Linked DNA regions of Homo sapiens: region 2 is linked to region 1. A link means that fine-mapping ties the variant in region 1 to the expression of a gene that starts in the linked region. Tissue or cell type: tibial nerve. Region 1 holds a variant in brackets; the other region holds the start of a gene. All regions are shown on one strand. Distances are from middle to middle.

Evidence for each region. PIP is the estimated chance that this variant, and not a neighbour inherited with it, causes the effect. A credible set is the group of variants that fine-mapping cannot tell apart.
Region 2: it holds the start of COLCA1, and the variant in region 1 is the best candidate, but not a certain one, in a credible set for the expression of COLCA1 in tibial nerve (GTEx, PIP 0.64).

What each region holds. Positions count from the first base shown.
Region 1 is chr11:111,340,607-111,345,665 of GRCh38, forward strand. No RefSeq gene overlaps it. Among named protein-coding and RNA genes, the nearest start is that of MIR4491, 4.6 kb to the right of the region's middle. The variant G/A (reference allele first, on the strand shown) is at 2,018.
Region 2 is chr11:111,302,598-111,307,656 of GRCh38, forward strand. COLCA1 (colorectal cancer associated 1) reads right to left here and starts at 2,451. Exons shown (of 2, transcript NR_169237.1): 1 at 2,231-2,451. POU2AF3 (POU class 2 homeobox associating factor 3) reads left to right here. Exons shown (of 5, transcript NM_001271458.2): 3 at 2,331-2,385; 4 at 3,797-4,026.

The DNA of each region.
Region 1 (5,059 bases):
AAATCTACAACTAATATCACACATAATGGTGAAATACTGAGTGATTTCTCTCTAAGATTGGGAACAAAGCAACAATGCTGTCTCTCACTGCTTCTATTCATCATTGTACTGGAGATTGGAGCCAATGAAATAAAATTTTTTTAAAAAAGAATACCAATTGGAAGGAAAAAAAAGAAGGGAAATCTCAGTTGAGACATAAAATGTTTACATATAAAAACCTAAGGAATAAAAAAAGAGCGGCCAGGTGCGGTGGCTCACTCCTGAAATCCCAGTACTTTGGGAGGCCAAGGCGGGTAGATCACCTGAGGTCAAGAGTTCAAGGCCAGCCTGACCCACATGGAGAAACCCCATCTCTACTACAAATATAAAATTAGCCTGGCATGGTGGCACATGCCTGTAATCCCAGCTTCTTGGGGGCTGAGGAAGGAGGATTGCTTGAACCTGGGAGGCGAAGGTTGTGGTGAGCTGAGATCGTGCCCTTGCACTCCAGCCTGGGGGACAAGAGTGAGATTTCGTCTCAAAAATAAAATAAAATAAAGTAAAATAAATAGCTACTAGAACCAACAAGTGAGCTTAGTAAGATTGCAGGATACAAGGTCAATCCACAAAAATTAATGATATTTGTATCTACTAGTAGCAATCAGAAAATGAAATTTTTAAAAATTCTTTTTACAGAAACATAAAATACTTAGGAATAAATTTTAAAAACATGTGTATGACTTGTGCACTGAAGACTACAAAACCTTGCTGAGAAAAATTTTGAAAGATCTAAATCTGTGAAGAGACATACCTTGTTTATGGGTTGGAGGATACAACATTTTAAGATGTCAGTTATCTAAAATTGATCTAAAGATTTATTACAATCCCAATTATAATTTCAACAGGTTTTCTTTGTAGGAATTGACAATCTGATTCTAAAATTTATATGAAAATACAGAGAATCTAAAATGTTTAAAGTAATCTTGAAAAGAAAACAAAGAGAACTTGTTTGATTTTAAAACTTATTTTAAAGCTATATTCATTAGTATGGTACTGGTGTAGGATAGATAAATAAATCAATAGATCAGAAAAGAGTCTAGAAATAGAATCACACATATAATTTAATTTTCAACAAAAGCATCAGAGCAATCTAATAAAGAAAGAAAAGAGTTTTCAACAAAAATGTGCTAGACAACGAAATATCCTTAGCCTTGACTCCTGCCTCATACCACACACACATACATACACACACACACAAAATGAATTATAAATTTAAAAGTAAAACATAAAACTATCAATCTTCTAGAAGAAAATAAGCTATCTTCACTATTTGAGGGGCAGGCAAAGATTTCTTACATAGGAAACAGAAATACATACCCATTAAAATGATAAATTGTACTGCATTGAGTTTTAAAACTTCACAAAATACACCAGTAGAAAAATGAATAGGCAGGCTGCAGCCTGGGAAAAAATATTCACAGAACGCATATCTGATGAAGGAATTGTATTCAGAATAGATAAAGGACTATAATTCAATAATAAAAAGAAAAGTTGCCCTATTAAAATGTGGTCAAAAGATTTAAACAGACACTTCACAATGGAAGATAAATAAACATCAAATACATATATGACAAAATGTCTTTCATTAGTCATCAAAGAAATGCAAATTATAAACCAGGTGAAATACCCCAAATGTTGTTGAAGGTGTGGAATAACCAGAATTCTCATTTGTTGGTGGTGAGAGTATAAAATGGCACAACCACTTTGGAAAAAAGTCTGGCAGTTATCTTGTAAAACTAAACATATATCTACTATACAAGCCAGTGATTTCATTCTTAAGTATTTATCCAGAAGAAATAAAAAACATCTGGCCAAATATGAAAAAAAAATACTTGTTCAAGAATGTTCTTAGCAGCTGTATTCATAATAGCCAAAAACTGGAAACAGCCCAGGTGTCGATCAATAGGAGAATAAATAATCAGAGTGTGGTAGATTCATGCAATGGAATACTATTCAGCAGAAAAGGAACTGCCTATAC[G/A]TGCAACAATATATGGATGAATATAGAAAAACATTATGCTAAGTGAAAGAAGAGCTACACAAAGAGCGCATGCTGTGTAATTCCATTCACCCTTATTCTACAAGCAACGCTCATCTATGGTGAAAAGAAATTGGTGGTTGCCTCTAAGGAGATAGAGGTGGAGACTGATTGATAAGGAGCACGAGGAAACTTGGGGATTAATAGTATTGTTTTGTATATTAATAGAGATTTGGGTTACACAGCATTACATATTTTCCAAAACTCACTGAATGATGTCCTTAAGATTTGTTTTTTTTGCTCTATGTAAATTTGACCTCACAATAAAAAAAGAAAGAACCTCAAGTTAATATCAGTTTAATATATACATCCTAAAGTCTTTAGGGTGAGTGCACTGATGGCTTAGCTTACTTTGAAATGCATCTAACAGAAAAATACAGAGTCAATAGATGGATTGATAGATTTCTGATCATCTAGAGCTAAATGTTCATTGTAGAATCTAGGTGATTACAGGCATTCACTGTACAATTCTTTAAACTTTTCTGCATGTTTGAAATTTTTCATAATAAAATGATTAATAAAAAAAAGTAACGCTGATGTGAAGTATCAAAACTCTCTATGGTAACCTCAGGGCATAAACCTAAGGAATCGAGCCCCAGTAGGTATACCTCTCCCAGCTGCTTACCAGCCCACCTGTGTCTTGAATGGGTTATCCAACACCCAAGCTTCTGATCAACCTGGACTATTGCATTGCATTTTCCCAGCAGAAGAATATGCAGGATTTTCAGTAAGACTGTGTGTACATTCTAATTTTAATAACTGCAGTTACTAGTATGATAAAGCTTCTGACAATCATATAATTTAAGTATATAAAAGGTACTTTTACTTCAGACTAAAAACTGGTGACAAAGGACTGCAATATGGAAGAAAATAATTATTTTCCAGCCAGGAGATTCTATTTCAATATCAGCTATAAGAAAAATAATTTGTATTTAAATTTTGTTTATAAAGTGTTTCTATCATACCTGTGAGCTGTTTTTATTTATTTATTTATTTATTTATTTATTTATTTATTTATTTATTTTCAGACGGAGTCTCGCTCTGTTGTCCAGGCTGGAGTGCAGTGGTGCAATCTCGGCTCACTGCAACCGCCTCCTCACGGGTTCAAGAGATTCTCCTGCCTCAGCCTCCTGAATAGCTGGGACTATAGGTGCCTGCCACCACACCTGGATTGCCTGGCAAATTTTTTTTTTTTTTTGTATATTTAGTAGAGATGGGGTTTCATCATGTTGGCCAGGCTGGTCTTGAACTTGTGTCCTCAGGTGATCCACCCACCTCGGCCTCCCAAAGTGCTGAGATTACAGGCATGAGCCACTGTGCCTGGCCAACTGTTTTTAAATTTTAAAAGTTTAAGATTCAAGGCCTAATCTTCTGCTTATGATATGTCATCAGTGGACATTTCATGTATATAACCATGTAATAATGGAACACAGCAGTGAACGGATGCATAGCAGTCTGAACTCTTCCCTGTGTATTAGCGCTGAGTCACTGCTGGGATCTGGCAGGGCTCCTCAAAATCCCTGAGCCTCACTAGGATCTCCGGCCTGCCTCTTGGTCTTCAAGTACACAGACCAGAAAGTCACTGTTCCTGAGAGGTGAATAGGGCCAAATGATGCAACCCTGAAAAAGCTTTCCTCTAACTTACTTTCCCAAGGCAGAGAGAATTTCTCTAGAAATCAGGTCAGCCATGTTATTTAGGCATTTTTATTGCATCTTTTCCCCAAGGCCCTGGGACTCTGTGTTGGTATATACACAAAGGATTACACTATTTTTGTTTAGTAAGATGGCTTGCTGATTTCAGTTTACAAGGTGAGAACATGGATATGTAAGTCTGAGTCATTTGGAAAAACAAAAGACAATCACTTTTAGAATAAAGAGAAATACCTATTTAGAATTTTCTCTGTAAAAACATCACATTGATCACATCTTTCCATCTTCTGAAAGGCATTTTAAACCAAATCTACAGATTAGAAAATTTTGATAGATAACTTATCAGAACTATATTTTGTGTTGAAACTGACCAAAATGCTTAATACATTTACTTTTAGTCTTTTAAATATTCTGACTTGTGTTAAATATGTCAGGAAACAAAGAAGTAAGGCAACACTCTCTTGACTTGTGAAGTGTCCAAGCTCTGGGCTGGACGTAGTAGTTCCTCACTAAGCATTTGTTGAATCGGTGAATAATATATCCCCAAACAAGGCCTAAAAAAGGAGCATAATGAAAATAAAGCTGCCACAATTGGGCCCCTTGATTTCGTAAAGCACCCAGGCATCATCTTGCATCAAGTACTTTTGCAGACACAATCTCAAAATGTCTCATTCTAAGAAATGGGCAAATGATACTCTCTTTGATTGATGGAGAAAAAGAATCTGAGCCCAAGATGGCATAGCAAACTCAGAATTCTAATTGCAACTTGCAAGATCAGAACACCCAAAAAAAAGCCCCTGCACACAGCCATGCTGCTGCCTCTGCTGACCTATACATTGGTTATAAGTCAACTGAGGGACAAAGTTCAAAAGAGACCACAAAAGTACCAGAAGGTAAGAATTCTGGCTATAATCTGTCTGTATCCATTAAATATGTCTATTTATGTAGATTCATATTTATTCCTCTATCTACTGAGTGTGTATACTGTGGGTTCAAAACAAAATTACTTCATTTGGTAGCAAAAACCATGAGGTTTGGAAATTGATACATAGGCAATCAGCACAGTAAGATGAAAGTTTAGCATGCCATTAGGTTACTAGAGCCTATATATGATTTTGAAGAGAGGCACCACTAACCATCCAGATTCTAGATCACAGGGGCACAGAGCAACCAACACGCTGGCAGAAAATATTGCCCTTCTCTCTGCATATCCACTCTGAATTCAGAACTGGCTAGATGTCCCAAAGCACACACATGAAACTTTCACATCCACTTCTCTCTGTCTCCTCCTCTTGGAGTGAATTCTCCCATTATATAGACCGCTGAGTTACTATG
Region 2 (5,059 bases), 38 kb before region 1:
TCCCCGGAGTAGTTTGACTTATTTAAATTTTTCTGAATTCCCTCCTGAGAAATAAAGCAGGACTTCTGAACCAGTGTCTTATAGGAACAGGCAGAGTAAAGCCTGCTCTACTTTGCTTCCCTTAAGACTGCATCAGCCTATGCCCTCGCAAGCAAGCAGGTTTAACACGCATATAATTTAATTACAAAAGCCAGACGTAAAATCCCTCACTGGAAGCCATCGGATGGATCTGGGATTCTAAAGAAGCTGTGAGAGCGTACTTAGTAGGCAAGGGTAGCAGACACCAGGGGATGATGTTGCCTGCTTCTTAGTGTAGACCTTTCTGGTATAACAGAGATGATCCCCAGTTTGTTCATTTGTTGAAGGATGCCTCTGGGAAACTTTAAGCCAAGGAGAGGGTTAATTATATCAAATACTACAAAGTGGCAAGAAATCTATCTTAATTTGTTATAAAGTCAGTGTAGTATCCACAATTTAAAATTTTAAGAAGGCAATCACGAATGGAAGTTATAGGTTGAGACAGACATTCAGTAAAGAATTCAAATATTCTTCAAGCAGTGCCGGAAGAAACTGTGTGTATGCCGGATTGGAACACTCGATTTTAAAAAACTTATTTCAGCCAGATCAATTTGCAAACATGCGCATGCACGCACACACACAGACACACACACACTTGCCTTTGGGGTAAAAGGAAACTTGAGTTAGTCGTTATCAAAAGATATCATTTACCTTTCTTTTTTTAAATCATTAATTTTTTAAACAGCCTTGATGTGTTTTTATAAATTGTAGACTGTGAATTTTTGTGCTGTTTGAAATCTAAGAGAGAGTTGCCTTTCTTTGTATTCTTGGAGCAAAGTAGAAAGTGAACCCATGACTAGAAAGATAATATCAAGTAGGATATTGTAAACACACCTCAGGGAGATAACATGGGGTGGAGGCAGACAAACAGGCCAATCCGGGGGAGGAATGGAGTTAAGGAAAGCTCTACAATGAGGCAGATTTTTTAATACCCACTCCTTCCAAGTCCTTCAGCTCAAGCTGCAGCCAAATATTTGCATAAAGAGCTGGTAAAGGATTCCAGCTTCCTGGTTCATGACATTACAGCATGGATCGTTTTCAAAATTAATACTGCCTCCTGTTTCAGCAGTGGCTGCCTGCACAGCTCTCCCTGTGGCTCAGAGTATGGGAGTGAGTATGCCCTGTAACCCAAAAGAGGTGTGGTGAGCTCGGCTTCCCAGCACAGAATCACAGAGCAATACGGGTACCTTTAAACTTTAAAGCCACACCTGAAATTTAAAAAAAAAAAAAAAATCCTAAATTACTCAGTATAATTATTAATTCAACTGAAAAATGCAGGCTGCTTTACTTTGAATAGTTAAAAAGAGCAGTCTCATAAACTTTTAAGTATTTAAATACAGTAGTTTAAATAAAAGCAACTTTTATAGATAGTAGTACAAAACATACAAAGTACTGGAATAATTCCCGACCATTAACTAGAATGAAAGTAGGTTCCAACTCACCAACCACAGCTTTAAGAAAATATTTTCTATTTTAATATTTCATGTATACTAAGAACATGTGAATATTTTTAGCTACTCAGAATTAACAAAATTAAGAATTGTGTTCTTTGGGGAAACGACTCCCTAAGGCTAAGTAGCCAGATGGTATATGAAATTTTTGAGAAAAATAATTGACTAAGCCATAGATAGTTGAGATTAAATAAATGTTAGTCCTTAATAATTTTAAATCGAATAGTTTAATAGGAAGCCTTTTGCTGCATTTTCTCAAACTGTTACATTTTTACCACATAAAATTATTTACATTAATTTTTTACTAAAAATTAATCACTTTTAAAATTTAAGTAGAAGAATCTGATATTAGGAAAAAAACTCCCCAAGCAAGCAAACATAAATATTGGATCTAGATAAAACATAATATTGGTTGTATTTAAGAAGTCTGTTTTATGATTCGATTTCAGGTTTTCATTGTTCCAATGCAATTTTCCAGATTGAATCTTAAAAGGATTATAAACGTCAAAAGGCATTTTAAATTCTACACGGACTTAATACACCTACCGCAATTCTATGCACCTGTCTTTCAAATTCTATAAAATATTTGTTGACACTTTCCCTTTCACTTGTTTTTTACAATATATTTTGTACAAAAATTTGTCAAACATTGAAAAAAAAAAAGAAAGCAACTTTTTCTGAGAAGGAAGAATCTGGCTTACCTTATAGCAGAAAGAAACATAGTCCTCATCAAAATGTCTTAGCTTTCCCTTCAGAGCATTTCTTTCAGCCTGCTTCACGGTGATATTCTTGCTTTGACAGCGGTCCGGAGGCAGCAGTGTCCACCTTTCAGACCCAGTTGCACCATCTTCTGCAGGTCAGTACAGCCAGCATTAACAGTTCCCTCAAACACTCTTTCAAAAGTCCATCTCAAAAGTCTTTCAGTCTTGATTCAGGGGTTAAGATAGGCACCACCATTTAATTGGAATCCAACCAATCAGAAGGTGAAAAAGGCATAGTCACTCCACATGCAAGCCCAGCAAGAAAACAAGCATAAATGTTGTCTTCATTTCTGAATTCTCTACTCTCTGCTATATTGTCTCAAGAGTTTGTTCTTCACATTTATTCCAGTTCCTCATCGCCAAGTAACTAAACTGAACTACAAAATCAGAATTGTTCTCAGGAACTTATCTTTTTTTAGTGCACTGTTAGATGGAATACAGAACATCCCAAGACACTCAAATAATGCCTTTGCTCTGTTCCTTTAGTTTCCAGCCGACAGGGGCTTCCCTCCCCTTCTCTGTTCCCAGAAAGCAGTTCAAACAAGTGTAGGTTTTCTCAGCCCAATAAGAATAACTCGATTACATAAACACTCCTACCTCTGCTACTCAACAGCTAAGAGTTTAAGGAGGTCGTATATAAGGAAACCTCTGCCTATGGCCTCTCCCCACTAAATGTGTCACCGTAGCTTCACCTTAAAGGAACTTGAGACCTCAAGAAGAACACAGTGTCCTTTAGTCCCTTTGATGAGCACACTCTAATCCTCTCTTCTTCCAGCATTTACAGATAATTATCACAAATTGGGCCTATTAATAATAAAATGGAAAAGGAGTAATGTTTACTGATTATCTTTGTTTGATGTTTAACAACTTACTTTGATCACATCATGATGTTAACATGTTCACTGAGAAAACATTTTTGCTTTTTGTACTTCCGAGCCAATAGTGTTAATTGGTACTCTATGTTCCTGGTTTCCATGATTATCATTTGCATTCTCATTTAAATCACTTCTCAAAATTCTCTCCTCCAAACTTAAGTTACTGAGTAAGAGTGAAAAGTTCAAAAAAGCAATCACCATAAGTCAAAAGAATTATTTCCCGTAGCATCAGAAGTTTTCTCAAAGCCTCAACAACTTTGTCAGTTACTTCTGAGAGGTTTACGTGAACTGCCGGTAGGGGCTGGATGTCCATGGTTTTACAGCCCAAGAAAGGGGAAGTTTGAGCCATTATTTGACTGTGACACTTGGACACAAATTGGGTCACCATCCTTTTATTTTTGCCCTAACCAGTTTTACAGCCAGTTTCCACATTATTAACCATGTTCATTTCCCTGGAGCTTGAATTAGCTAGGACAACTAAAGAGTCAAAATTGCATTCCCGTTTACTTTTCTGGATTTGTTAAGCCCCCTTTCCCCCTAGACATAGTAAATATTCAGAGTATAGATCTCCATTCAAATCTGTGTTTTGCAATTTTTATGCAAAAACCTGCCTTTTTCCTTTCTCCTCTAGGACTGTATTTTGAGCCTGAACCAATTTCTTCCACGCCCAATTATTTGCAACGGGGAGAATTTTCCAGTTGTGTTTCATGTGAAGAAAACTCAAGCTGCCTCGACCAGATCTTTGATTCCTACCTTCAGACAGAGATGCACCCGGAGCCTTTGCTCAATTCCACACAAAGTGCTCCACACCATTTCCCAGACAGCTTCCAGGCCACCCCTTTCTGCTTTAACCAGAGCCTGGTAATTTTTCTCAGTTCTTTATATACCTGATTGTGTCTAACTATGGGGTAATAGTGCTTTGTGAGTTTGCACCATCCCGTGGGAAATCATACAAAAACTATCAGCAAGGAAATCATCCAAGGAAACAAGCAGAGAAGAATTTAAAAGTCAATGTATAGAAGTAGCCACACACTGCAGGGCATAAACCTTTGGATACACACGTAATTTAGATTTCCCAAGATTTAGATTTTTCGGCCACCAAGTAAGTTGGTGGGTAGCAATAAAAAGAGGTTCCTGGCAATATTCATTTAATGTTTTTTAAACTGTAAAGTCAAGAGACCTACTAATTGGAAGTCAGTGGTTTAAACAATGGCTCTTGGATTTTTTGATGGAATTTTGAGTTCTTGGAAATGGAATTAAGGCTGTGTATATATGGTAACAAACTTCATTTCATTAGGGGGAGGTTTTGCTTTGTTTTGTCATTGAACTGGCTCTACTAACTGATAGTTTGAGTCTGCTATAAGCACAATAACTCATTTGGGTCTGAGATGGTTAGTAAAAATGAAGCCGTAATCTTTGAAAAAAATTAAATTGGTTGTTCTCGGTGGATCTCAAATGTTTGAAAATGTGTTATCCTTCAAAATGAAGTAAGGTTTCTATTAGTGGAAACTAGTTATTTCAGTTGTCTTTTAGAGACTCACAGGTTTGTTTTGTAAACCTTAAATTGTAAAGTTTTCTTTTTTAAGGAATGTAAATACTTTTTGCCTTTGGATTGTCAAAAGTCTGTGTGGGCATCAGACTAAATTTTAGAGCGGATGGGAAATTAACTCTGCAGAATATGCACATTGTCACGGGGAAAATATGGGGCCCCAGTGACCCAGTTCCTTCCCAGCCTCCAAGTTAGGTTTTCTCAGTAACAATTGTAGACTTGCTTAAGAGAAAACAGACAGTAGCTCTCACTCCAGGGAACAAGACTTTAGTGGCGAGACAGGTAGTGACACATCTTGGCATATGCCAGGGATACTCCAAGATCCTTGAAGATCCAAGTTATGCC